Homo sapiens: one gene and its partners. The protein of the gene in region 2 purifies or fractionates together with the protein of the main gene of each other region. This does not show direct contact. Each region holds a gene or a part of one and is shown on either strand. Other genes may lie near its edges.

The links.
Region 1: the proteins of CLN6 (region 2) and CHP1 purify together in Homo sapiens (co-immunoprecipitation; one large-scale study listed by IntAct). This does not show direct contact.
Region 3: the proteins of CLN6 (region 2) and SLC7A5 purify together in Homo sapiens (co-immunoprecipitation; one large-scale study listed by IntAct). This does not show direct contact.
Region 4: the proteins of CLN6 (region 2) and SCAMP3 purify together in Homo sapiens (co-immunoprecipitation; one large-scale study listed by IntAct). This does not show direct contact.
Region 5: the proteins of CLN6 (region 2) and SMPD4 purify together in Homo sapiens (co-immunoprecipitation; one large-scale study listed by IntAct). This does not show direct contact.
Region 6: the proteins of CLN6 (region 2) and GCN1 purify together in Homo sapiens (co-immunoprecipitation; one large-scale study listed by IntAct). This does not show direct contact.
Region 7: the proteins of CLN6 (region 2) and ATP2A2 purify together in Homo sapiens (co-immunoprecipitation; one large-scale study listed by IntAct). This does not show direct contact.

The regions. Positions count from the first base shown.
Region 1 is NC_000015.10:41,276,268-41,279,327, reverse strand, and holds part of CHP1 (calcineurin B homologous protein 1), read right to left. Parts: intron 562-3,060; coding exon 439-561; intron 1-438. UniProt on the Homo sapiens protein: Calcium-binding protein involved in different processes such as regulation of vesicular trafficking, plasma membrane Na(+)/H(+) exchanger and gene transcription. Involved in the constitutive exocytic membrane traffic.
Region 2 is NC_000015.10:68,212,729-68,216,228, forward strand, and holds part of CLN6 (ceroid-lipofuscinosis neuronal protein 6), read right to left. Parts: intron 1,661-3,500; coding exon 1,562-1,660; intron 1-1,561.
Region 3 is NC_000016.10:87,863,008-87,866,507, forward strand, and holds part of SLC7A5 (large neutral amino acids transporter small subunit 1), read right to left. Parts: intron 1-3,500. UniProt on the Homo sapiens protein: The heterodimer with SLC3A2 functions as a sodium-independent, high-affinity transporter that mediates uptake of large neutral amino acids such as phenylalanine, tyrosine, leucine, histidine, methionine, tryptophan, valine, isoleucine and alanine.
Region 4 is NC_000001.11:155,259,561-155,263,650, forward strand, and holds the start of SCAMP3 (secretory carrier-associated membrane protein 3), read right to left. Parts: upstream 2,801-4,090; 5' UTR 2,592-2,800; coding exon 2,526-2,591; intron 2,175-2,525; coding exon 2,097-2,174; intron 1,100-2,096; coding exon 977-1,099; intron 891-976; coding exon 770-890; intron 1-769. Other genes in the region: dual specificity protein kinase CLK2, read right to left, coding at 3,658-3,840. UniProt on the Homo sapiens protein: Functions in post-Golgi recycling pathways. Acts as a recycling carrier to the cell surface.
Region 5 is NC_000002.12:130,168,103-130,171,602, forward strand, and holds part of SMPD4 (sphingomyelin phosphodiesterase 4), read right to left. Parts: intron 1-3,500. UniProt on the Homo sapiens protein: Catalyzes the hydrolysis of membrane sphingomyelin to form phosphorylcholine and ceramide. It has a relevant role in the homeostasis of membrane sphingolipids, thereby influencing membrane integrity, and endoplasmic reticulum organization and function.
Region 6 is NC_000012.12:120,128,716-120,132,215, reverse strand, and holds part of GCN1 (stalled ribosome sensor GCN1), read left to right. Parts: intron 1-193; coding exon 194-290; intron 291-882; coding exon 883-1,031; intron 1,032-1,462; coding exon 1,463-1,570; intron 1,571-2,721; coding exon 2,722-2,940; intron 2,941-3,500. UniProt on the Homo sapiens protein: Ribosome collision sensor that plays a key role in the RNF14-RNF25 translation quality control pathway, a pathway that takes place when a ribosome has stalled during translation, and which promotes ubiquitination and degradation of translation factors on stalled ribosomes.
Region 7 is NC_000012.12:110,329,747-110,333,246, forward strand, and holds part of ATP2A2 (sarcoplasmic/endoplasmic reticulum calcium ATPase 2), read left to right. Parts: intron 1-2,850; coding exon 2,851-2,939; intron 2,940-3,434; coding exon 3,435-3,500.

The DNA of each region.
Region 1 (3,060 bases), about 27 Mb from region 2:
GAAAACCAGTAACAGTTACAAAGGTTATGAAGATTACAACACTCCCAAGCTCTTATCTGAGTAATGTTTTCCCCCCTTCCTCCTGTGCAGTAAAACGTAACTTTTTTTTTTTTTTTTGGAGGCAGAGTCTCACTCTGTTGCCAGGCTGGAGTGCAGTGGTGTGGTCTCGGCTCACTGCAACCTTGGCCTCCTGGGTTCAAGCGATTCTCCTGCCTCAGCCTCCCAAGTAGCTGGGATTACAGGCACGCGCCACCACGCCTGGCTAATTTTTGTATTTTTAGTACAGATGAGGTTTCACCATGTTAGCCAGGCTGGTCTTGAACTCCTGACCTCGTGATCCGCCCACCTTGGCCTCCTAAAGTGCTGGGATTACAGGCGTAAGCCACCGCGCCCAGCCACTAAAACGTAACTTTTTCAAACAAGAAGTAAGTGACCAACCTTAACAAATTCTGTGAAAGATATGGCACTGTCCCCATCCTGATCAGCCTCCTGAATGGTCCTGTCTGCGATGCTGCCCAGCTGCTCATCTGAGATATTTACTCCGACCATCATGCGTAGCACCTGGAAGACCAAGAGCCAGGAATTACAAGGGCCTTGGGAATCAGAGGGACTCTTTACTAAGATTAAAAATAAAGCTATCACCATCCTCCTTTTCCTTTGATGCCCTCAAATACAGTCATGCACTGCATAATAATGTTTTGGTTAATGACCGACTGCATATATAATGGTGGTGCTATAAGATTATAATACTGTATTTTGATGAGAACACATAGACACAAAAAGGGGAACCACAGACACTGGGGCCTACCAGAGGGTGGAGTAGGAGGTGAGAGAGAAACAGAAAAAATAACTACTGGGTACTAGGCTTAGTACATGGGTGGCGAAATAATCTGTACATCAAACCCCCATGACAAGAGTTTACCTACATAACTAACCTGCATATGTAGCCCTGAACCTAAAAGTTAAATTTTTTTTCCTTTTTTTTTTTTTTTTTTGAGACGGAGTCTCACTCTGTTGCCCAGGCTGGAGGGCAGTGGCACGATCTCAGCTCACTGCAAGCTCTGCCTCCCGGGTTCACGCCGTTCTCCTGCCTCAGCCTCCTGCGTAGCTAGGATTACAGGCGCCTGCCACCGTGCCCGGCTAGGCTAATTTTTTGTATTTTTAGTAGAGATGGGGTTTCAGCATGTTAGACAGGATGGTCTCGATCTCCTGACCTCGTGATCCGCTCACCTCGGCCTCCCAAAGTGCTGGGATTACAGGCATGAGCCACTGCGCCCGGCCAAAAAATTTGTTAAAAAAGATTACAATACCATATTTTTACTGTACCTTTTCCATGTTTAGATGTAAGTATTTGTTTTTGGGTTTTTTTTTTGAGACAGGGTCTCGCTCTGTTGCCCAAGCTGGAGTGCTGGGTTGCGAATGTGGCTCACTGCAGCCTCACCTCCGAAGCTCAAGTGATCCTCTCACCTCAGCCTCCCCCAAGGAACTGGTACTACACTACAGGTGTGTGCAACCATGCCTTTTTTTTTTTTTTTTCCTGAGGCGGAGTTTCACTCTTGTTGCCCAGGCTGGAGTGCAATGGCACGATCTCGGCTCACTGCAACCTCTGCCTCCCCAGTTCAAGCGATTCCCCTGCCTCGGCCTCCCGAGTAGCTGGGATTACAGGGATGTGACACCACACCCAGCTAATTTTTGTATTTTTAGTAGAGATGGGGTTTCGCCATGTTGGCCAGGCTGGTCTCGAACTCCTGACCTCATGATCTGCCCGCCTCCGCCTCCCAAAGTGCTGAGATTACAAGTGTGAGCCACTGCGCCCAGCCACTTGGCTAATTTTTCAAAATTTTTTTGTAGGAATGAGGTCTCACTGTGTTGCCCAGGCAGGCCTTCAACTCCTGGGCTCAAGCAATTCTCCCTCTGCCACCTCCCAAAGTGCCGAGATTATAGGCGTGAGCCACCATGCCCAGCCACAGATATGTTTAGATACACAAATACTTACCATTATGTTACAACTGCATATAGTAGTCAGAACAGTAACTTGCTGCACGGGTTTGTAGTCTAGGAACAATAGGCCACACCACATAGCCTAGGTGTGTAGTAGGCTATACCATCTAGGTTCATGTAGGTACATTCTATGATGTTCCTACAACTACAAAATTGCCTAACATTGCATATCTCAGAATGTATCCCCATCTTTACCATCATGTGACTAAGTAACAGCTAAAAGGCTGAAACCTTTATCTTCTCATCTAGGCAATGATGTAAGCAGAACTTATCTAGGTGACTGGATAAGAAGACAAAGACTAAGGGAGAGTCCTTTGCATTTTGCCCTTCCTCATTCTTCTTACCTCATTCTGTCTGGTGGCACTGCAGCCACCCTGGAGCCATGAGGTGAGTAATATGAGCTATGGATGCCAGGGCAGGAACACAGAATAAGCCTGGTTCCTGGACATCAGTTAGGTACTGTACCAGCCTGGACAATCTATGCCAAACATTCTTGTTGCGTGAGCCTAACTAGTTCCTTATTGATTTAAATCAGTTTGGTGGGGCTTTCTGAAATCCCACCCAAAATGTCGTCCTCTTCGAAGTGCTGCATTAAGCCAACTATTCCTAAAGTATGGCCCAAGAAAACATAAAAATCCTTGAAGAGTTAAATGCTAAATCCCCTTCTGAGAAAAATAACAAGCACAATTAAAAGGCTGCGAGAATTGAGTAAGAGAATTTAACACTGTTTCACCAAATCTGTCTTAAACTTAACCAATCCTTGGGCCCCTGGGAATTCTATTAACACCTTTAGGGTGTGAACATACTTTGAAAATTGCTTCCTTAAACAAAATAAGCAACTTTAACAATTTGACTGTCAGGCAATATGGAAAGGCTGGTTCTTAGGCAATATGAAATGGGAGACAGGGTACCTTTCTGACTCCTTATATTATTATTGCAGTCAGCCACCTCTGTCTTCAGATGGCAAGAACTGAGCTTTTCCACAGAAAGGAAAGGGCCTCTAGCCCAGTGGCTCATAGACTTCCTTTCCTCCACTCCTTTACTCCCTTCTACAATCTC
Region 2 (3,500 bases):
TCAAACTACTGGCCTCAAGTGATCCTCCTGTATCAGCCTCCCAAAGTATTGAGATTACAGGTGTGAGCCACCATGCCTGGAAAAATTCATTTATATTTCCTATATACTTTACATACACAGCCTGAAGTTAATTTTATATAACATTTTAAATAATTTTGTACATGAAACAAAGTTTGTGTTAAGTACATATGTGTAGAATTTTCTTTTTTGAGACAGAGTGTTGCTCCATCGCCCAGGCTGGAGTGCGGTGGTGGAATCTCGGCTCACTGCAACCTCTACCTCCTGGATTCAAGTGATTCTCCTGCCTCAGCCTCCCAAGTAGCTGGGACTGCAGGCGCACACCACCGCACCTGGCTAACTTTTTTGTATTTTTAATGGAGATGAGGTTTTGCCATGTTGGCCAGGCTGGTCTCGAACTCCTGACCTCAAGTGATCTGCCTGCCTTGGGCTCCCAGAGTGCTGGGCTTACAGGCGTAAGCCACCATGCCGGCCCTAAGTTTTTTGTATTTTTTTCTTTTTCTTTTTTTTGAGATGAAGTCTCACTGTCTTGCCCGGGCCGGAGTGCAATGGCGTGATCTTGGCTCACTGCAACCTCTACCTCCCGGGTTCAAGTGATTCTCTGGCCTCAGCCTCCCGAGTAGCTGGGACTACAGGTGCCTGCCAGCATGCCCGGCTACTTTTTTTTGTATTTTTAGTAGAGATGGAGTTTCACCATGTTGGCCAGGCTGGTCTCGAACTCCTGACATCAGGTGATCCGCCCGCCTCAGCCTCCCAAAGTGCTGGGATTACACGCATGAGCCACTGCGCCTGGCCAATTTTTTCTATTTTTAATGGAGACGGGGGTTTCACCATGTTGGCCAGGCTCCTGACCTCAAGTGATCCACCCACCTCAGCCTCCCAAAGTGCTGGGATTACAGGCTCCAGCCACCGCGCCTGGCCGAGTTTTCTACTTATAGTATCATGCCAGTGCTTAAAAAATTTCAGACTCCTTTGGAGCATTTCAGATTTCAGATTTTTGGATTAGGGATGCTCAACCTATAGTAGTTTTAAAGGCCTTACTTGGCAAAGTGCAAAGCCAGCAGTTCCTGCTAGTGCTCCCAGTGACATCTCAGGGCTCTCCAGGGCAGAGGATGGAGTTCAGCTGCTGCTGCTGCCTCTCCTGCCACCTGGCTTCTTCCTCTCTTCCCAGTGGGTCCTTGACCTCTCCCTGGACCTCCAGTCACTTCTGCCTCAGCCTCCCCAAATGTTTTACGGTTTCCCAAGCACAGCCTTGTCTTTAGGTCCTTCTACCTGAACACCTCTCTGCTTCCCCCACTGGCACGCCAGGCTGAGGCTCAAATCAAAAGCCCTTTCTTGGGGCATATTTTCCATCCCTCCAGGCCACCGGCAGCTCCGCCTTCCCCGGGCCCCAGGCCCTGGACATGCTGCTCTGTCACAGCCTTCACCCCCCAGCAGCAGGCAGGAGCGTGCTTGAGTCAGGACACAGGGCTTAGCATCACCTTCCTGCCAGGTGTGCAAAGAATGGGGATGACAGGAGAGAGTGGGGGCCCTGGGACAGTACCTTGAGCAAGAGAAAGGGCGTGATGACGTTGTAGGCCATGTGGAAGTAGTCCCCAACACTGGGCTTGTTGAGTGGAAACCACTCGAGAGGGAATACCAGCTGCGGAGCAAATGGAAGAATGGGCTCACCTGGGCACAGCCCCACGCGGCCCTCGGGCCTCAAGGGAGTCTGCCCCTAATGCCGCCCACCCCAACTCCTTTCACCCCCCACCCCATCATGTACACTTAATTCTTCCTGTGATCGCTGGACCTTCTCGGCAGCCTTGGGACAAAGGTTTATCCAGACAGGAAAGCTGAGTCCCAGAGGAGGTAACGGACTTGTCCCCAGACACAGAGCAGATGCAATTCCAGTCAAGGCCTGACCCTGTGCCCCTCACCCAGCAGATACCAAATAAATGACCCTGATGCCAGCTTGGGAGTTGGTAGGCTTCTCAGGGACTCCGTTGTGGCACCAACTTGCTGGGTGACCCTGGGCTAATACTTCCCTTCTCTGGGCCTTGGTTTCCCCATCTATAACACAAGAGAGGTGGCCCAGAGGGCCTACTTGGACCGTTCGGGTTCTGGCGCTCCTGAGTGCCAGATCAGTCTCCTGAGTGCTAGGCCCTGATGTGGAGGGACTGCTTCCAAACCAGGTTCAAAGTACACGTTAGGAGACAAAGGAGAAAACAAGAATGCTCTACAAAGTAGCTGCAACTCTTCCTTCCCAGAGAGAGGAAGGCAGGCCAGGGGCAGTTCCTCCTTCTGCAATGCTCTCTCTTCTGAGCCCTGGCCTTGTCCAGGCCAGTGTGAAAACCCCTATGCGGGGTTAAAGCATTTCACAACCCCCAAACTGTACTTCTAGTATCTGTTGATTGAAAACACACATAAGGCCCACAAGTTTCAAGGAAGGATTTAGATGGTTCTCTCTTTTAACACAGAAATGCCATATTGGATAAACTAAACCCGCAGAAATAAAACTCACAGAATGCAGCAATCTCAGTCTCTCTCTCTCTCTCTTACTCAGTGTGCATGTGTTTATCTGCCTCTTTACCTACATCATATATATACTTGCTAAAATACTCTGTGATAGCAAAACATCAGAAATAGGCTGACTCTTCAATCAAACAGGACCAGTTGAATCCCTGATAGTACTTCTTACCATGGAAGGTTAAGTAGCCATTAACAGAAATGACACCTTATATGTACTGACATGGAGAGAGAGCTATATTTTTTTTTCTTTTTTCTTTTTTATTGAGATGAGGTCTCCTTATGTTGACCAGGCTGGTCACAAACTCCTGGGCTCAAGCGATCCTCCCACCTTGACCTCCCAAAGTGCTGGCATTACAGGTGCCAGGCACCAAGCACCATTAATTTTTAAATTATTTGTAAAAACAGGGTCTTGCTATGTTGCCAGGACTGGCCTCAGGCAATCCTCCTGCCTTGGCCTCCCAAAGTGCTGGAATTACATGCCACCATGCCCACCATATGATATATTCTAAAGGAAAACAAGCAGGTTGCAAAATAAAGTATAAAGCAAAATCCCATTATGGTTAGAAGGGAAAAGGATGTATATATGTGTTTGTACAAGCAGAGAAGAGTGAAAGGGGTGTTCCCGAAACTGTCAGCAGTGGGACAGGAAAGGGGTAGGGAGAGTCTAACACTTCTTTATGTTACAACTATGTTACATCTATGACATGTTACTTTTATAACTTGTAAATGTTTTTGTTTTTAACAAATTTGCAACTATTATGCATACATTTGAAAATCTCTAGCGTATACAAGAGCTTTTCAAATGTCTACGTTCCACCAAGTCCTACTTAGGGTTACAGTGGTCACAGCAGCTCTAAGCAGGATGGGGGAAGTGATTTGCCCAATAGGAGACCCTGTTATGCCAGTAGAAGCTGGGTCCTAGTGAGTGAAGGGAGCCACGAGCCCACTCCTGGCCTCATCTCTCTCTCTAG
Region 3 (3,500 bases), on a different chromosome or scaffold from region 2:
GCGTGACGGCACGCCTGGGACTGTCTCAGCAGCCCCCCATGCTTCACCCAACTGGGACAGGGAAACAGGAGGGGGCTACTTCTGCTTTCAAGGCATGGAGGAGCTGTCTGCAGGCCACTTCCCGAACACCTATGCGCTTGGAGAAGTGACTGAGACTGAGCCAGGGTATCTTCTCCACGATGCAGTGAGCCCATCGGGCCCTTCTTCTGAGAGCACCTCCCTGGAGGTGGAAGCCCCTGAGGCCCACAGCATCTTCTGAACCTGTGAGTTCCCACTTACTGAGAACTCGCCTGGATCAGTGCCGGGCCACAGTGGACCGGGACTTTGAGTGGATGCTACCCTACTCGCTATGCAGAGCCAGCTGGGGCCCAGGGAGGTCAGATAAACTGCCCAAACCAAATCCAGGCCCAGCCAGAATCTCAGCTCCAGCCTTTGCGCCTTCTGATAAAACCCAGCATCGCTTGAATTTCCAGTACACGCTGCCAAGTCTTCGTTAAGCAATAAATAACCACACAACCCTACTGTCATGCCAAGTTCCATATGGCCATCCAGAAAGAGACACATGGAGCTGGTTCCTCTCACCTTTATGACCAGTGAAAAGCGCACCAACACGAAGACACGCGTGAAAGGACCTCATCTCCTACCCAGACTGACAAGCAAGGGATTTTTTTCACTCACCGTCAGTGGGATGGTTCTAAGCACCGAGGCCAACCCATTTCACACGATTATTTCACAAAAAGAAACCTTCTGTGGGACGTGCCTGGGCGACTGAAAAGACAGCCAGCAAAACTGAGAACCTTGTTCTCAAATCTATACCCTCTCCCAAGGCAGCCTCAGAGGCCCGAGGGCTGAGGATCCAGACCCGAAAGCCACTGTACCTTCTGTAGGATCAGGCTCAAGGAATAAGGGGGTAAAAGGTGCCCTTTCCCTTCCTAAGCAGAAAATTCCAGAACCCAACCTTATGTGTGATCATTTAAAAATATATATATATATATATATATCAGCCGAGTAGGCTGACTCACGCCTGTAATCCCAGCACTTTGGGAGGCCGAGGTGGGCGGATCACCTGAGGTCAGGAGTTCGAGACCAGCCTGGCCAACGTGGAGAAACCCTGTCTCTACTAAAAAATACAAAATCAGCCAGGCATGGTGGTGCATGCCTGTAATCCCAGCTACTCGGGAGGCTGAGGCAGGACAGTCGCTTGAACCCAGGAGGCAGAGGTTGCAGTGAGCCGAGATCGTGCCATTGCACTCCAGCCTGGACAAAAAGAGCGAAACTCCACCTCAAAATAAATAAATAAATAAATAATAAATAAGTAAAATAAATCACTTTCTATGGCTTTTCACTGCTCCAGGAGCAATGTCCACAGATCAAACGCCCGGCCTCTCCTTCACACCCTGGAGCGCCCATCCTGCCCACTGGTCCGGGCTCCAGGCTGCCCCCTGCACCTGTCAGAAGCCCCCCTATAAGGGCAGGGTCTCCCTTCCCGGGACATCCACTGCCCTTCTCCGAGCTGAAGTCAGAATGACCTGAGAATCAGCTTGGAGTTCTACCAGCCTCAGCAAAGCCCACCTCTGCGACAGCACTCCTTGCAGACCCCTGACCCGGTGACAGATGAATAAAGTACAGACACACAGATATTCTGCTCTGCCAGTCCAGCTGAGGGTCCCAGCCGCTTATAGGCTCCCTGCTGAGTCCTGTAAACAGTTGCTACTTGGCCCTGATCAGCTAGTCAGACGTGCATTTATTCAGTATGATTAACTAACAAAAGCTTGAGTCAACACCATTAGAATGTAACAGACATTGTGGACTTCCCAAGTAAAAAGCACTTAAACACCCACGGTCTTAAGATTATGCGAGTAAACAAGCTAGCTAGGTAAACTACGCTGCCTTTCTTTTATCACTATTTTTATTTGTTTAATTAAAGGTAAAGGGATCAGGCCGCCTTCAGCCAGAGCTAATTACCGAAGTTATGCCAACTTCTCGGCCTTCCAAGATTTGTGTCTATTTCTATAACTATCTCTAATATCTTTCCCACCAGAATGATTGAACCCCAACACACCTCCCTCTCTCAGCAGGGTCTGCCTGTTCAGAGAACACAGCTTCTCTTTCTTGCCTTACACACAGGGGCAAGAATAGATTCACTCTTGCAGAGAGTACATCCCTTTCTGTTACTGAAAATCACTTTCCAAAAAAAAAAGCAACACATACACACATACTCACCACACACACAGGTGGGTCAGAGAAAAAAAACAAGTACAAATGGCTTAGGGACATGAGAAGTGTGGCCCTAACTTTCGCTGAAAGGGACCCTATTAACATTAACCCTCACCTCTGGGTCAGAGAGGGTTGGCACTCTAGGGCCTGCCTTGAAGCTTTACCTACTGGGACCAAAAGGACTGCTTGGAAAGCTATTTTAGGCCAGGTGTGGTGGCTCAAGCCTGTAATCCCAGCACTTTGGGAGGCAGAGGCGGGTGGATCACCTGAGGTCAGGAGTTCAAGACAAGCCTGGCCAACATGGTGAAGCCCCGTCTCTGCTAAAAATACAAAAAATTAGCTGGGCATGGTGGGCACCTGTAGTCCCAGCTACTCGGGAGGCTGAGGCAGGAGAGTCGCTTGAACCCGGGATGCGGAGGTTGTAGTGAGCCAAGATCGTGCCATTGTACTCCAGCCTGGGTAAGAGCAAAACTCCATCTCAAAGATAAAATAAAATAAAAATAAATTTAAAAAATACTTTTTAAAGCCCTATTACCACAAAATAAATCCAGGAACGCGTGACTTGGTACAGCCTCTTTGGAAGGCACATTAGCTATTACATTAGAATCCACACCCCGCCGGGTGCGATGGCTCATGCCTGTAATCCCAGCAAATTGGGAGGCTGAGGCACATGCCTGTAATCTAAGCTCCGGAGGTTGAGGCAGGAGAATCGTTTAAACCCAGGAAGCAGAGGTTGCAGTGAGCAACGAGCCTGGGCAACAGACACAGACTCTGTCTCAAAACAAAATCAAAAACAAAAAGCAAAAAACCACATACCCTTTTCCCATTTGCACAAAGCTGGGAAACCCCAAATGCCCTCCACAGGGTTCTATGGGGGGGCGGGGGTGCGGTGAGCACACTTGTTCCTGCCGACACAGGGAAGTCTTCTTAGCAGCTAAAGAGGGCAGCCTCTGCGTACTGCCTGGGAACATGGCAAAACCATTTTAGGCTTTAAAAAAAAGGTGGAGAACAAGTTGTACATTATGATCTTTTAAATAAATAGGCCAGCGATATATTTGTAACAGAAGCAGCTCCGGAAGCATACACTGTCAGCCGCAGAAACTCTGGGGGTCGGGGGTGGTAAAGGAGGAGAAATGTGTCACCCAGGCAGGAGCTCAGTGGCACCATGCTTGGTTCAAGCAGTTCTCCTGCCTCAGCCTCCGAGTAGCTGGGACTACAGGTGTGCGCCATGACGCCCAGCTGATTTTTGCTTTTTTTTTGAGATGGAGTTTCGCCTTGTTGCC
Region 4 (4,090 bases), on a different chromosome or scaffold from region 2:
CACTATGTTGTCCAGGTTGGTCTCTAACTCCTGAGCTCAAGCAACCTGCCTGCCTCGGCCTCCCAAAGTGTTGGAATTACAGGCGTGAGGCACCATACCCAGCCCTGGATCCTCTCTTTTATCTCCAATTTGGGGTCCAAGGAGACAAGTGAGAGTGGAAAAATTAATACTGTTTATTATTATTTAAAACATCTAAGCACTGTACCAAGTACTTCACATATATTTTGTTTAACCTTCACAACAACCCTGTCAAACGGATGCAAACGTGGTTTTCATTTTATAAATAGGGAAACTGAGGCATTCAAGATTAAGTAACTTCCCTAAAAGCTCATGGTTAGTAAGCAGTATCTCTAAAATTCAAACTCAGCAGTCTGACTCCAGAGCCCAGGTTTGTGTTTTTTTTTTTTTTTGAGATGGAGTCTCACTCTGTCACCAGGCTGGAGTGCAGTGGCGCTATCTCGGCTCACTGCAACCTCCACCTCCCGGGTTCAAGCGATTCTCCTGCCTCAGCCTCCCGAGTAGCTGGGACTACAGGTGCGCGCCACCATGCCCAGCTAATTTTTGTGTGTGTGTATTTTTAGTAGATACAGGGTTTCACCATGTTGGCTAGGATGGTCTCGATCTCTTGACCTCGTGATCCGCCCACCTCAGCCTCCCAAAGTGCTGGGATTATAGGTGTGAGCCACCGCACCCAGCCGAGCCCAGGCCCTTAAGACCTGTTTTTGCTCCTCCCAAACTCTCAGATGCTCTTCCCCACTCTATTACTTACTAGCTGTGCCCCCCAGGGCAGCATGCTGCAGCTCTCGCTCCCTTCGGTCCAACTCCTCTGCCTTCCGGTTGAGCTCCTCCTGTTTCTTCAGCAGCTCAGCTGTGGCTGCTGCAGCTGAGGCCTGCCCAGTGTGAGCAGACGGAGATGTGAGCCCTGGGCCCCAGGACTGGCCCTTCTCCCCAGCCCTCACCTGCACACCTCCTGTACCTGAGTGCTGTATGAGCCATAGTTCTTAGGTTCTGTGGGGCTGAGCTTTCTCGAGGGCTGCAAGGAGGGAGCTGAGGGTGGAGGCAATGGGGCAGGGGCTGGAGGCTCATAGGCTGGTGGTGGCTGTTGAGGAAAAGACCTTAGTGATCATCTAGTCCCTCATAACACAGGAATCTAGAGTCTGCTTGAATACCTTTAGACCCAGAACTCATGATGTAAGGAAGCAGCCTTTCCCCCATTTGTTAGGAAGCTAGTTCTTCTGTTGAATTTCTGTCAGAGAACTCTATGATGACCTGTAGCAGCCTTATCATCCCTCATATCCAATTCCTTAGTGAGGACTCAAATCACTCATTTACCATATCTCCCCACTTAACTGTGTTTTTTTTTTTTCTTTTCTTCTGGGGATGGAGTGTGGGGTTGTCTCTCTGCCACCCAGGCTGGAGTGCAGTGGTGCAATCATCACTCATCGAAGCCTCAAACTCCTGGGCCCAAGCAGTCTTTCCATCCCAGCCTCCCAAGTAGCAAGGACTACAGGCATGTGCCACTACACCTAGCCAATTTTTAAAACGTTTCAAGAGATGGGGGTCTCGCTGTTGCCCAGGATGGTCTCCATCAAATTCCTGGGCTCAAGCAATCCTCCCACCTCAGCCTCCCAAGTGGGATTACAGGCATGCACACCATGCTTGGCTTTTTTTTTTAAGTTTTAAGTACCATGAAAACCCCTTAAATTCTTACAACTCACCATCTTCTAATCCAGTGGGACAAACAGGTGTAGTCCTCCTCATTCCTTGCTTTCAAACTGCACACCTAACCTAAACTCCAACCAGCCCCAACCTTTATTTTCTTCAAGAAAGCCTTCCCATACAGAACATTGGTTAAGGCCTTGCCAGCCTCCAGATCTTCCCAGGACTGACTTTTAGAGCTCAAACCATTTGGGTTGGTGGCCCTGGTGGCCCTAGAAGGATGAGGCATCCCATGGCTGACTAGCCTCTCTCAGGGAACTAAGATCACAGTGCCTCTTCCTTCCTGTGCATGCAGAAAAGTCCCCTGTACCCAAGCTAACTTGTCTCACTGGCAAACCCTTCCCTTCCTTGAACTCCTATGCTCTCCAGTAGCTCACCTCCCGGGTCTCAAAAGGGTTGTAGACGTCAAGCGTGGCATACTGCCGGCTGGGTCGGTGCTGGATCACAGCTGGGTCCTGAGGGCAGAGACCCGGGTCTCAGCTGGCACCCAGTGCCACCTAGGGGAATTCCCAGGGACCATTCCCAAACTGCCTGTGGCTCCAAGTACTGCACCTTCGGGGCCACGCCGTTGTCCCAGGACTGGGACAACATTTACCTCAAATCCATCATCCAACACTGCCAGCACCAGCCCATTAAGGGGCAGGGCCCGCCCCCCAGAGTGCTCACTGGTCTGGAGTCACTGTCACCCCACGTGGCGGCTCTTCCCAGGATCAAATGTCACAAATGGGGATACAAGTTAGCCCGACCCTACAGAACCGGGAAGAATCAACCTGACCGCCCAAAAGAGGCCGACTGGCGCAAGTCACCTGAAAGGGGTTGTCAAGCTCGCTGGGCTCGGCGAACGGGTTTCCGCCGTCTCTGCTCTGAGCCATGTTTGCAACTGCGGCCTCCGCGGCCCTCTGCCCTCCACGCCCCTGCCGCAGCAGTGGCGGTAGCGGTAGCCCTCAGAGTCCACTTCACTCGCCTCAGTTCGCCCCGCTTCTCTGTGCACGGATTGGTTCCACCGACCGGAAGGGCCACAAGGATCCCCGCAGCAGCCGTGGGTTGCGCCTGCGTCTTGTCCAAAAGCTAAGACGAAAGTGCCCCCACGTGATACCTCTAACCCAGTGCCCACAACCAACTACCGCCCCTCTTCCATGTGACTTCCTTCCACTAACGAACTACACTTCCCAGCAGGCCTCGCGTAGGAATCCGGCCTTCCTAGTCTCCCGAGATGGACGACGGGAGCCTTCTGACCGGTCGTGGCAATCCCCCCTAGGAGCCAGGTTGAGCACGTTTTCAACCTGAGTTTCTGGCTCTATACTGGGCCGCGGCCTAATGACTCTAGGAGTCAGATCTTTCCCAACTCTCATAATTCCACATCCGAGAAGTGCCACCTCATAACACTTCTCTGTTTTAATCTGAAAGAAATGCTGCCCCACCCATCACTACCCTCCCATATGATAAGGTGGACAGGGGAAATAAACTGGTAGCCTGGCTGTGCTTCATTTTGGAGGGTAAGGAGGACTCCCTTCATACCCAAACTCAGAAAGTTTGCCAATAGTTTCATCCCTCCACCCCAGCATTCCCAAACCTCCAACTCCAGGGATGGGGGTCAAATGAAGCACGTTATTTTATTTCACAAAGACTGTACAAAATTCCTTATAAAACATGGGGTAGATGCCACCTGGTTACCTCACTCGGCCCCCATCCAACTCCGTATGAGGGGGCAGGTGAGGGTGGAAACTGTGTGGATGGAATAGTATTATGTACAAGGCAGGGGTTGAAGTGATAGGTACAAGTTCTTTCATATTTACACTATTTCACATATTCACAGGTATATAGAGAGCCAGGAGGAAGGAGTGAACTCTGGCTCGTTCTCTTGTATAAAAAAGCACCAGTGTCCTGGACTGGACACCCACTGCTATAAAAGATGCAGGGGGGCCCAGGGCCTGATCGTCACCGACTGATATCCCGACTGGAGTCCCACAACTTGTTGGGCGGCTCAGCCCGAAGGCGGGCGAAGAAAGGATGCTGAAGGGCTTCACCCAAGGTCAGCCGCTTAGCTGGTTCATACTCTAGCATGCTTTCAATCAGATCGAAGAGCTGGTGGTGTTCCTCTGCCTCTGAGGTCAGATACCGCTGGTGGAGGAGGGCAGGAAAAAGGTGAGGCAGGATGCCTTACAAACCCTGCCTTCTTCAAGACCCTACCTTTCATTCTTGGAGAACCAAGGCTCTGCTTGCAACCAATTTGAAGGCTACCTAACCACGACCACACCAGGACCAACGTTTCTGATATTATAGCTCAACCTACCTTCCCACTAGCACAATTACTCCATAATCTTTGAAAGTTCTTTCTACTTGTATATCCTTGTCAACTTCATGAATCTTC
Region 5 (3,500 bases), on a different chromosome or scaffold from region 2:
GGCTGAGGAGGGAGAATGGCCTGGGCCCACGAGTTGAGGCTATAGTGACAAATGATCGTACCAACTTCACTCCACCCTGGGGTGACAGAGCAAGACCCTGTTTCTAAAAAATTAAGAAATTCCCAGCCTGGGCAACATGGCAAAACCCTGTCTCCACAAAAAAATACAAAAATTAGCCAGGTGTGGTGATGCCTCCCTGTAGTCCCAGATACTTGGGGGGTTGAGACAGGAGGATCACTTGAGCCCAGGAGGTTGAGGTTGCTGTGAGCAGAGATCGTACCACTGCACTCCAGCCTGGGGTAAGAGAACAAGACCCTGTCTGCAAATAAAATCAATTTGAAAAAATAGGAGAATCAAAAGTGGATGTTAATACTACTGATAATTACATAGTCTCCATACATCTTCCCGGTAAATTCTCGTTATCAATTTTTTTTTGAGACAGGATCGTACCCTATCGCCTAGGCTGGAGTGCAATGATGCAATCACAGCTCACTGCAACCTCAACCTCCTAGACTTAGGCCTCCCAAGTAGCTGGGACCAACACCACCACGCCTGGCTGATGTTTTTCTTTTTAGTAGAAACAAGGTCATGCTATGTTGCCCAGGCACTATTAATTTTTTTTTTTTTTTTTTTGGTTGAGATACGGTCTCACTCTGTAGCCCAGGCTGGAGTACAGGGGCATGATCTTGGCTCACTGCTACCTCCGCCTCCTGGGTGCAAGCAATCCTCCCACCTCAGCCTCTCAAGTAGCTGGGATTACAGGCGCACACCACCACACCTGGTTATTTTTAAATTTTTGGTAGAGATGGGATTTTGCTATGTTGCCTGAGCTGGTCTCACACTCCTGAGCTCCAGTGATCCGCCCACCTCAGCCTCTCAAAGTCCTGGAATTACAGGCATGAGCCACCATGCCCAGCCTCATTACTATTTAACCTGGGCACAAAGTAATTATTTTACAATGGAAAAACCTGACCGGCACCTTTTTAACCCAGTGATAAAAGGGCACCTGGCAAGGACCAGGTGTCCCACTACGGTGCTCCTCCCAACAAAGCCCATGCTGGGCCTAGTCACCAGCAAATACCACACAGCCTAAGGGGCGGCCGCATGCTCTGGAGGGGTCAAGGTCAGGAAAGACAGAAAGGCAAGGGACCATTCCTGACTGAAGGGGACTAGAAATATCACTATATACAGTGGGTGAGCCTGTGAAACATCACTGCACACAGTGTGAGGCCTGGTGGCAATACTAACTTCCTGGTGTGGTTACAGGCACTGTGACTATATAGGATAATGCATTCGCTTCTAGGAAATACACTGAAATATTAAGAGGTCAAGGGATGCCATATCCTGTAGCTTACTCATATTGGCTTAGAGAAAAAAAAACACATACAATAGAGGTGGAAACCAACACATGCAGCAAAGTATTAACAGTTTGGAAATCTGGGTGAAGATCTATGAAAGTTTCTTTTTTTTTTTTTTCCCTGAGACAGGATCTTGTTCTGTTACCCCAGGCTAAAGTGCAGTGGCACGCTCACAGCTCATTGCTCCTGGGCACAAGTGATCCTCCCACCTCAGCCTCCTGAGTAGCTGGGACCATAGTTGCACATCACCATACTTGGCTAATTTTTTTTTTGTAGAAATGAGGTCTCCCGACGTTGCCCACACTGGTCTCGAATTCCTGGCCTCAAGTGATCCTCCCGCCTTGGCCTCCCAAAGTGTTGGGATTACAGGCGTGAGCCACTGTGCTCAGCCTGCAAGTTATTTTTATTATGCGTGGAAACTTATCTGTAAATCTGAAGTTATTTCAAAATAAAAAGTTAGGTGTGGTGACTTGCAACTGTAATTCCAGCTACTTGGGAAGCTGAGGCGGGAAGATTGCTGAGGCCAGGAGTTCAAGACCAGCCTGGGCAACACAGCGAGGCATCCCCATATCTCCGCAAAAAAAAAAAAAAAAGTTAAATTAGCTGGCTGTAGTGATGCATGCCTATAGTCACTGATGTGACAGGCTGGCTTGAGTGATGATTGTGCCACCAAGTGATGATTATGACACTGCACTCCAGCCTGTGTGACAGAGTAAGACCGTCTTTAAAAATACATAATGGCTAGGCCAGGAGCGGCGGCTCACACCTGTAATCCCAGCACTTTAGGGGGTCGAGGCAGGCAGATCACTTGTGGTAAGGAGTTCAAGATCAGTCTGCTCAACATGGTGAAACCCTGTCTCTACTAAAGATACAAAAATTAGCTGGGTGTGGTGACAGGCACCTGTAGTCCCAGCTACTTGGGACTGAGCCAGGAGAATCACTTGAAGCAGAGACAGCGCCACTGCACTCCAGCCTGGGCAACAGAGTAAGACCCTGTCAAAAAAAAAAAAAAAAGCACACAATGGACCAGTGTAGTGGTTCATGCCTGTAATCTCTGAACTTTGGGAGGCTAAGGCAGGAGGATCGCTCGAGCCCAGGAGTTCTAGAGCAGCCTGGGCAACATAGCAAGACCCATCTTACAAAAAAATAAAATAAAAGCTAGGTGTGGGGGTGCATGCTTATAGTACTAGCTACTTGGGAGGTTGAAGTGGGAGGATCACTTGAGCTCAGGAGGTCAATGTTGCAGTGAGTTGTGATCACAACACTGCACTCCAGGCTGAGCAACCCAGCCAGGCCCTGTCTCAAAAAAAAAAAAATGCTGGGTGCAGTAGCTCACACCTGTAATCCCAGCACTTTGTCTGAGGCCAAGGTGGACGGATTGCCTGAGGTCAGGAGTTTGAGGCCAGCCTGGCCAACATGGTGAAACCCCGTTACTACTAAAAATACAAAAATTAGTCGGGCATGCTGACCTGTGCCTGTAATCCCAGCTACTTGCGAGGCTGAGGTGGGAGAATCACTTGAACCCAGGAGATGGAGGTTGCAGTGAGCCAAGATCATGCCACTGCACCACTCCAGCATGGGCGACAGAGTGAGACTCCATCTCCAAACACAAAATAAAATAAAATAAAATAAAATAAATAAATAAACCCAAACCATATATATATAATTTCTTTTCTTTTTTTTTTTTGTGTGTGTGTACAGTGGTGCAATCTCAGCTCACCACAACCTCCGCCTCCCGGGTTCAAGCAATTCTCCCGCCTCAACCTCCTGAGTAGCTGGGATTACAGGTGTGCACCACCATGCCCAGCTAATTTTTGTATTTTTAGTAGACAAGGTTTCACCATGTTGGCTAGGCTGGTCTCGAATTCCTGACCTCAGGCGATCCCTCCACCTTGGCCTCCCAAAGTGCTGGGATTACAGGCATCAGTCACCACTCCCAGCCTACGTATATAATTTCTAATAGAAAAAATTAAAACAACCCAAAAAGTTAAAACAAGCAAAAAAACCAGGCATCAAAAACTGCTTGGCAGCTGAATTCTGCATCTAAGAGGGTGTGAATCTGCCTCACCTCCGAGTCCTCCACAGGATCAGCAACATTTCAGGGTCACTGATCACTGCCGCTACCTGGGCAGCGTCTCCTCC
Region 6 (3,500 bases), on a different chromosome or scaffold from region 2:
CTCCATACCAGTGGCAGCCCAATCTGGCAGGGGAGCACGAGTGCCTACAGGAAGGACTGGATCTTGAGTCTCTGAGTTGGCTTTTCCACCTTCTTTGTTGCTGTCCATCCTGGGCTCTAGAGCTGCCTGCCTTGGTTCCCACACAGCTGGTGTTGTTCCCTGCACCCCCTCACTCCCTTCTCTTCCCTGTCAGGACAACACTCGCATCTCCTCAGCCGGGTGCCTAGGGGAACTGTGTGCCTTTTTGACTGAAGAGGAGCTTAGTGCCGTTCTACAGCAGTGCTTGCTGGGTAAGTACACTGGAGAGTTCCCCTTCAGGGACCTGGGCCTCTCAGCCCTAGCGAAGAGTCGACGGGCATCTCCCTCCCTCCCTCAGAGGATCTTTTAGCAACTGGACTGTCCTTTCCTTGGGAATCCAGCAGTTAAAGCAAAATCCAGGCCAGGGGTGGTGGCACTCACCTGTAGTCCCAGCTACTCAGGAGGCTGAGGTGGGAGGATCAGTTGAGCCCAAGAGTTGAAGGTTGCAGTGAGCCTTGATCACGCCCCTGCACTCTAGCCTGGGCGACAGAGCGAGGCCCTGTCTCTAAAACAAACAAACAATACTGAATTTGCAGTGGTCCCGTAGCCCTGAGTGTCTCTGCTCAAAGAACACAGCTGTAAGCCCGGAGTGGTTCATGAGCAGGCTTTCCTTACTTTCCTTAATGTGCCACTTTGGGGAGCTTCTGCCAAGATAGCAGGGAGGTCCATGTGAATGTGGCCTGGAGTTTTCCTTGTGCTCTGGGTCAGCACACTGGTCTCCAGCGGGGTGGGCCCATGGGCCTCATGGGTGCTGGGGACATGCTGTAAAATACCGGTTGATCCCAGTCGTGTCCTTCCACCCAGCGGACGTGTCCGGCATTGACTGGATGGTTCGGCACGGGCGGAGCCTGGCACTTTCCGTGGCTGTGAATGTGGCTCCTGGCAGACTTTGTGCCGGCAGATATAGCAGTGATGTTCAGGAAATGATCCTGAGCAGTGCCACGGCGGACAGGGTAAGGCATTCGGGCCATATCCCATAGGCATAGGCCACATCCCATAGGCAGCACCTTGTGGACACAGCGCGGGTGGACCCCAGACTGGGGCTTAAGAAGCTTGGGTCTAATTTTACCTTTGTCAGTAACTTGCTGTGCCCTTGGACCAGCACTTGATCCCTTTGGGCCCCAGTTTCATCATCTAAACAAGGAATTTGGGTTGAAGAATCTAGATGCCCCTTCTGGGTCAGGTCTTGGATCCCTGTTCCTGGGAACCAGTGACTGTACTCATCTGCCTCAGCCGGGGCAGCCTGCCTGAGAGCTGTCATGGTGTAAGGGGTGATGTGGTGGTGATGTAGTGGAGGGTCCTGGAGATTACTAGGAACTGGGGTTTTCCTGGCTCTGGGGAAGGGGTGGGGGGCCTCCCGTCTAGCGCTGTCTGTTCTCCACAGATCCCCATTGCGGTGAGCGGGGTCCGGGGCATGGGCTTTCTCATGAGACACCACATCGAGACAGGCGGAGGGCAGTTGCCGGCCAAACTTTCCAGCCTGTTCGTTAAGGTGAGTGGGGGCCAAGCATGTGTTTAAGCCCTAACACCTGGCTTGTGAGGAGGTCCTAGGATCAGAGACCACCAGCAGTGCGCCCTCAACTAGTTGTGTGCTAGTTCTCCGTGGACGGCCTCCAGGAGATCGCTGAACACTTAGGGATGGAATGTAGGGGGTTTCTGTGTGTGCTTTACACTGCAATAAAGCCTAACTTTTTGTCAGATTCTCAAATTGACCCGTGACTCTGAATCAAGTTAGGAATCGCTATTTTAGGCATTCTTTCTAGGCACCGTAGTTTTGTAAAATTAGATACAGACCTGGGTTCCCATCTTAATACCTCTCTTTTCCCTCCTTCCTCTTCTAGTTGGCCCAGCACTTCTTGGTGTGGTTACTGTGCTATGTGCCAGGCCCTAGTTAGGAAAGCCAAGGAATGTGCCAGCAGGGCTCCTGTGGCCCGTGTGATATGGCGTGCTTCTGAAGCATTACTGTGCACAGAAGTCAGAGCCAGGGTGTATTTTAGTGAGATGGGGCCATGCCTGGTACTCTAACCAGCTCTCAGCAACAGTGTCAGTGGTGCTGTGCATGGACCTTGCCTTGAGTAATGAGGTTCCCAAGAGTGACTGCCTCCCCCCGCAGCACCGGGAACCCACGGAGTTTCTGAGGGGCCTGATTCGATTGAGCCTCGTCTGTGATGACATCAGCCTGCACCCGCTTGTTCACTTGGCATTATCCTGAAGGTGTAGAGATGAACAAGGCAGACAGGATCCCTGGAGCCCATGGGGAGGACCCTGATATAGATAAGATTGGCAGGGGGCACCTCTAAAGGATGACATGGGAGCTGAGACCTGCAGGATGGGAAGGAACTAACCTAGAGAGGATCCGGGGCAAGCACGGCCCAAGCTGTGGGACCAGCCAGGGCAGAGGCCCGAGGCCCTGGGATGTTGGAGGAAGTAAAAACGCATGCGGGCTGAGAGTAGTGAGCAAGGGGAGAGTGGCATGAGATGAGGGTGCAGGAAACCAGGGTCGAGTCATGCTGGGACCCTCCCACAGGAGCAGGGGGGGTCAGTGTTCATGCTGTAGGGAGAGTGTCGAGGCTGGGCATTTGGGCTGCTTCAAGGAATAGATGACATGCCTATCCAAAAGCCTGTTTGTGGTTCTTTTTACAGTGTCTGCAGAACCCATCCAGCGACATCAGGCTGGTGGCTGAGAAGATGATCTGGTGGGCAAATAAGGACCCACTGCCTCCCCTGGACCCCCAGGCCATCAAGCCCATCCTGAAGGCTCTTCTTGACAACACCAAGGATAAGAACACCGTGGTCAGGGCCTACAGCGACCAGGCAATTGTCAACCTCCTCAAGATGCGGCAGGGTGAAGAGGTGTTTCAGGTGGGAGCCTGGGGGGCCTCACCAGGATGTGCTGTGAGCATTTGTCTTTCAGCTCTTCTTCAGCATGGAAATATTTAAACCACAGGCTCTTCTCTGCCACCACGGATGTGCTAGCTTTCAGGAGCAGATTAAGATTTGGGTGACTGGGGCCGGGCGCGGTGGCTCGCGCCTGTAATCCCAGCACTTTGGGAGGCTGAGGCGGGCAGATCACCAAGTCAGGAGATGAAGGCTAACACGGTGAAACCCCGTCTCTACTAAAAATACAAAAAAATTAGCCAGGCGTGGTGGGCGGCTTTGTCCCAGCTACTCAGGAGGCTGAGGCAGGAGAATGGCGTGAACCCAGGAGACGGAGGTTGCAGTGAGCTGAGATCATGCCACTGCACTCCAGCCTGGGCGACAGAGTGAGACTCCGTCTCAAAAAAAAAAAAAAAAAAAAAAGATTTGGGTGACTGGCCCAGTACCTGAAAACATACATTCCCATGGTTTTCAGACTTCTTTCCGAGCAGGGCCCTTTCTTCAAATAAAATCTCACATGACACCCAAACAGACATAGCAGATCC
Region 7 (3,500 bases), on a different chromosome or scaffold from region 2:
GATAAAATAAATAATTTAAACCTGCTGTTAGAAAAGTAACAACTGAATAAATAATGCAATAATTATACAGCTGGATTATTTTGTATAATTCACTTTCCTTAGGTTTTGCTTAAACAACTTGGTACAAGTCTATTCCAAAAGGTACACATGACTCATACAGAGTAGACATTTGTCACATATTTTATTCGGCTCATTAATTAGCAAGGGAATCTGTATTTGAGGAAGTGTTCAATATTAGAATATTAGAATAGGGATTGCTAGGTTAGATTACAAAACTAATGTCTTACAGGGAAACCTCATATAACATGAGCATTTATTTAGTAACACAGTGTTACATTTTCCTAGAATGGGCTTGTTAAATAATGCTTCTGTATGATATTGAAAGGGTGTAGTTATCTTGGCCTTTTTGTCAGGTTTTAGATAATTATTTTTAACATCGGAAATTGTTTTATAATCAGTTAAGCCCTGTGAATTTTTATCTTGCCAATTTTAAGCTCATGATGATTTTTTAGATACAGGTTCTCCCTCCCCCGCAAGCTCCTTGTGAAGTCCAAACCCACATTTAGAATTGACAGAACTGGGGTGTTCCAACTTTCAAAGTGGAAAGCTTCTAGGTTTGTCTTAGGTTTCTCCAGGATATTAAGGTGTTTGAGCTACTTAAGTTCTTATTTTTTGGAACCAAAAGGTTGGATGAATTGGCTAAAAGTCAGTTTTGTCATACTGGTTGTTTCAGGAAGAGAAAGGGAATTTTCTTATTTACGATTTTGTGTCTCACTTAGCCTGAAAGCTTTAATTCCTCAGAATAGTCTTTATGTCTGTGAAAGTAAGCCATGTGTAAAGCCATGTGTAAAATTGTAATTTTTAAAATTTCAGTTTCCCAGTTCACTATAATTTTTTTTTGTTCTTTTCTCCCTTGAATGGCTTGGCTTAAAATGTTTTCTTATAATAAAGAAAAAGCCTGCCTGTTCTGAGTGAAGCTCTACCTCACAACAGGAAGCTGGTGCTAATTGGTATTCTGCAGGAGGCTTCTTGCAGTGGTATTGCATAACTGCCCTTGACTTAGGAAGATTTTCATCCTGCATATCCTAAATGGTTGACTTGCTCACAGTCAAAAATGTCTAAGTACATTTAGATTTAGCTAATGTAGATTCAGATTCTGAATGTCTTTTAGAATATTTTGGGCTTTGGTATAGACTCAAAGAATTTCACATTTTTGGCTGGGCACAGTGGTTCACGCCTGTTATTTCAGCACTTTGGGAGGCCGAGGCGGGCGGATCACCTGAGGTCAGGAGTTCGAGACCAGCCTGACTAACATGGTGAAACCTCGTCTCTACTAATATTACAAAAATTAGCTGGGCATGTTGGCAGGCGCCTATAATTTCTTTGGGAGGCTGAGGCAGGAGAATCACTTGAACCCGGGAGGCGGAGGTTGCAGTGAGCCGAGTCGTGCCATTGCAGTCCACCCAGCCTAGGCGACAGAGTGAAACTCCACCTCAAAAAAAAAAAAAAGTTATTTTAAAATAAAGATTAACTAATTTCCTTATTGAATGTGAGATGAATTGCTCTGAAAAGATGTGTTTTTAAAACACAACATAGCTTTGTTGTTGCTGTTATTACGGAGTTTTGCTCTGTCGCCCAGGCTAGAGTGCAGTGGCGCAATCTCAGCCCACTGCAACCTCTGCCTCCCGGGTTCAAGCACTTCTCTCCCTCAACCTCCTGAGTAGCTGGGATTACAGGTGCCCACCACCACGCCCGGCTAATTTGTTATATTTTTAGTAGAGACGGGTTTCACCATCTTTGCCAGGCTGATCTTGAGCTCCTGTCCTCATGATCTACTCACCTTGGCCTCTCAGTGCTGGGATTATAGGCGTGAGCCACCGTGCCCAGCTCAACGTGGCCTGTTTAACTTGAGTTTTACATTTTTTAAATTCCCCTTAGAGAATGATTTGATCAGATTATTAATTGCTCATATTTCAGAGAAAGCACGAGAAAATATAGTTTTGACATCACTTTCTGTAATTTTTTCTTTTTAGAGGAGGTTTTACAAGTTTTCATTTGCAATGAAAACACAAGCCTAAATCTTACTTTTCCAAACTGGGCTTCTGAATTATAATTTGTGAATGCAAATCAAGCAGTGGAAAAATTATCTTTAAGAAAATAGCTTATGTCGCTTTAAAAAATAAAATTAATCCTTTCCTAAGCATGCTTCCATCTGTATTGTCTAGGGAACATCAATTCATTCAGCTCTGCGGGCTCCTTACTGTATACATATAGTTATGCAGCTTCATAGAACATGAGCTATTGCCACAATAAAAATAAGTGGGAAGGAGCAGAGAAGCAGTTTGTCTTATTTTACTCGGGAAATGTTTATGCAACTCTGAAATGTGAGTTTATTCTTCCCAAGCTTTTGTGCTTAGCTCTAAGGCAGGACTACCTAATACCACTCTCACAGCCAGCCATTTGAAATTTGGGATTCTGAGCAATCTAAAGAGTAACTTGTCTCTGGAACTGACCTTTTGCTGACCGGGAGTCCTCATAACTTGGATTTTGTGTGGGTTGTTGTGTCTTTGGTGCCACTGCTGCTCATTCATTCAGCACCTCAGTGATGCTGTTTTTCATACTGTTCGATTGGTCGGGGGTGTGATGGGCGAAGCAGTCTAATATAATTAAGCTAGTTAGGGTAAGGGACAGTACTGCTGATGCTGAGTGAGCCTCAGTGAGTTTTATTAAAGTTGTTTTCGTAAATGAAAGAGGTTGTTTGCCTTTGTCCTAAGCTAACAAAGGTAGTTTATTTGTGTAGCATTTTTTAAAAATCCCTTTTAAATACTCTGATGCGCTCTCCCCCTACAGATGTTCATTCTGGACAGAGTGGAAGGTGATACTTGTTCCCTTAATGAGTTTACCATAACTGGATCAACTTATGCACCTATTGGAGAAGTGTGAGTAACCCTCCTCCTCATTTAAAGGATCTGGTGTGGCAGTTTAGTATTTGTATTGATTTGCAGCATGTCTACAAAGTTAAGACAGCTTTCTGAATGTGGCTCAAGTCAACACTTATTACTAAAGTAGTAAATGTTTTTAAAACAAAAACTTTGAAAGATGAACCAAAGGTTATAATCCAGTCATCTTTTTGCATCTTCTGGGCTCCAAACTTTCAAGAGGGATTTGTGTTTGTTATTCACTGTAGCCAGTGGTGGAAGAATTGAATTAAGAATTTCTGGTCTTTTTACTGATTGATTTCTGATACCAGAGATGCATTCTCTCTTTTGTTTTTGTCTAATATTGGCTCTGGCATCAAATTGTTTGGAATTTTTTCCAGTATGTTGTCCCAGAAATTCTGTTTTCATTATTAAACAATTGCGGGGGGGCAGGGGGCGGGAGGAATCAATAGTGGCGACCATACCCTGCTCTAAGAGTGTTTTCTCTTTGGGCAGGCATAAAGATGATAAACCAGTGAATTGTCACCAGTATGATGGTCTGGTAGAATTAGCAACAATTTG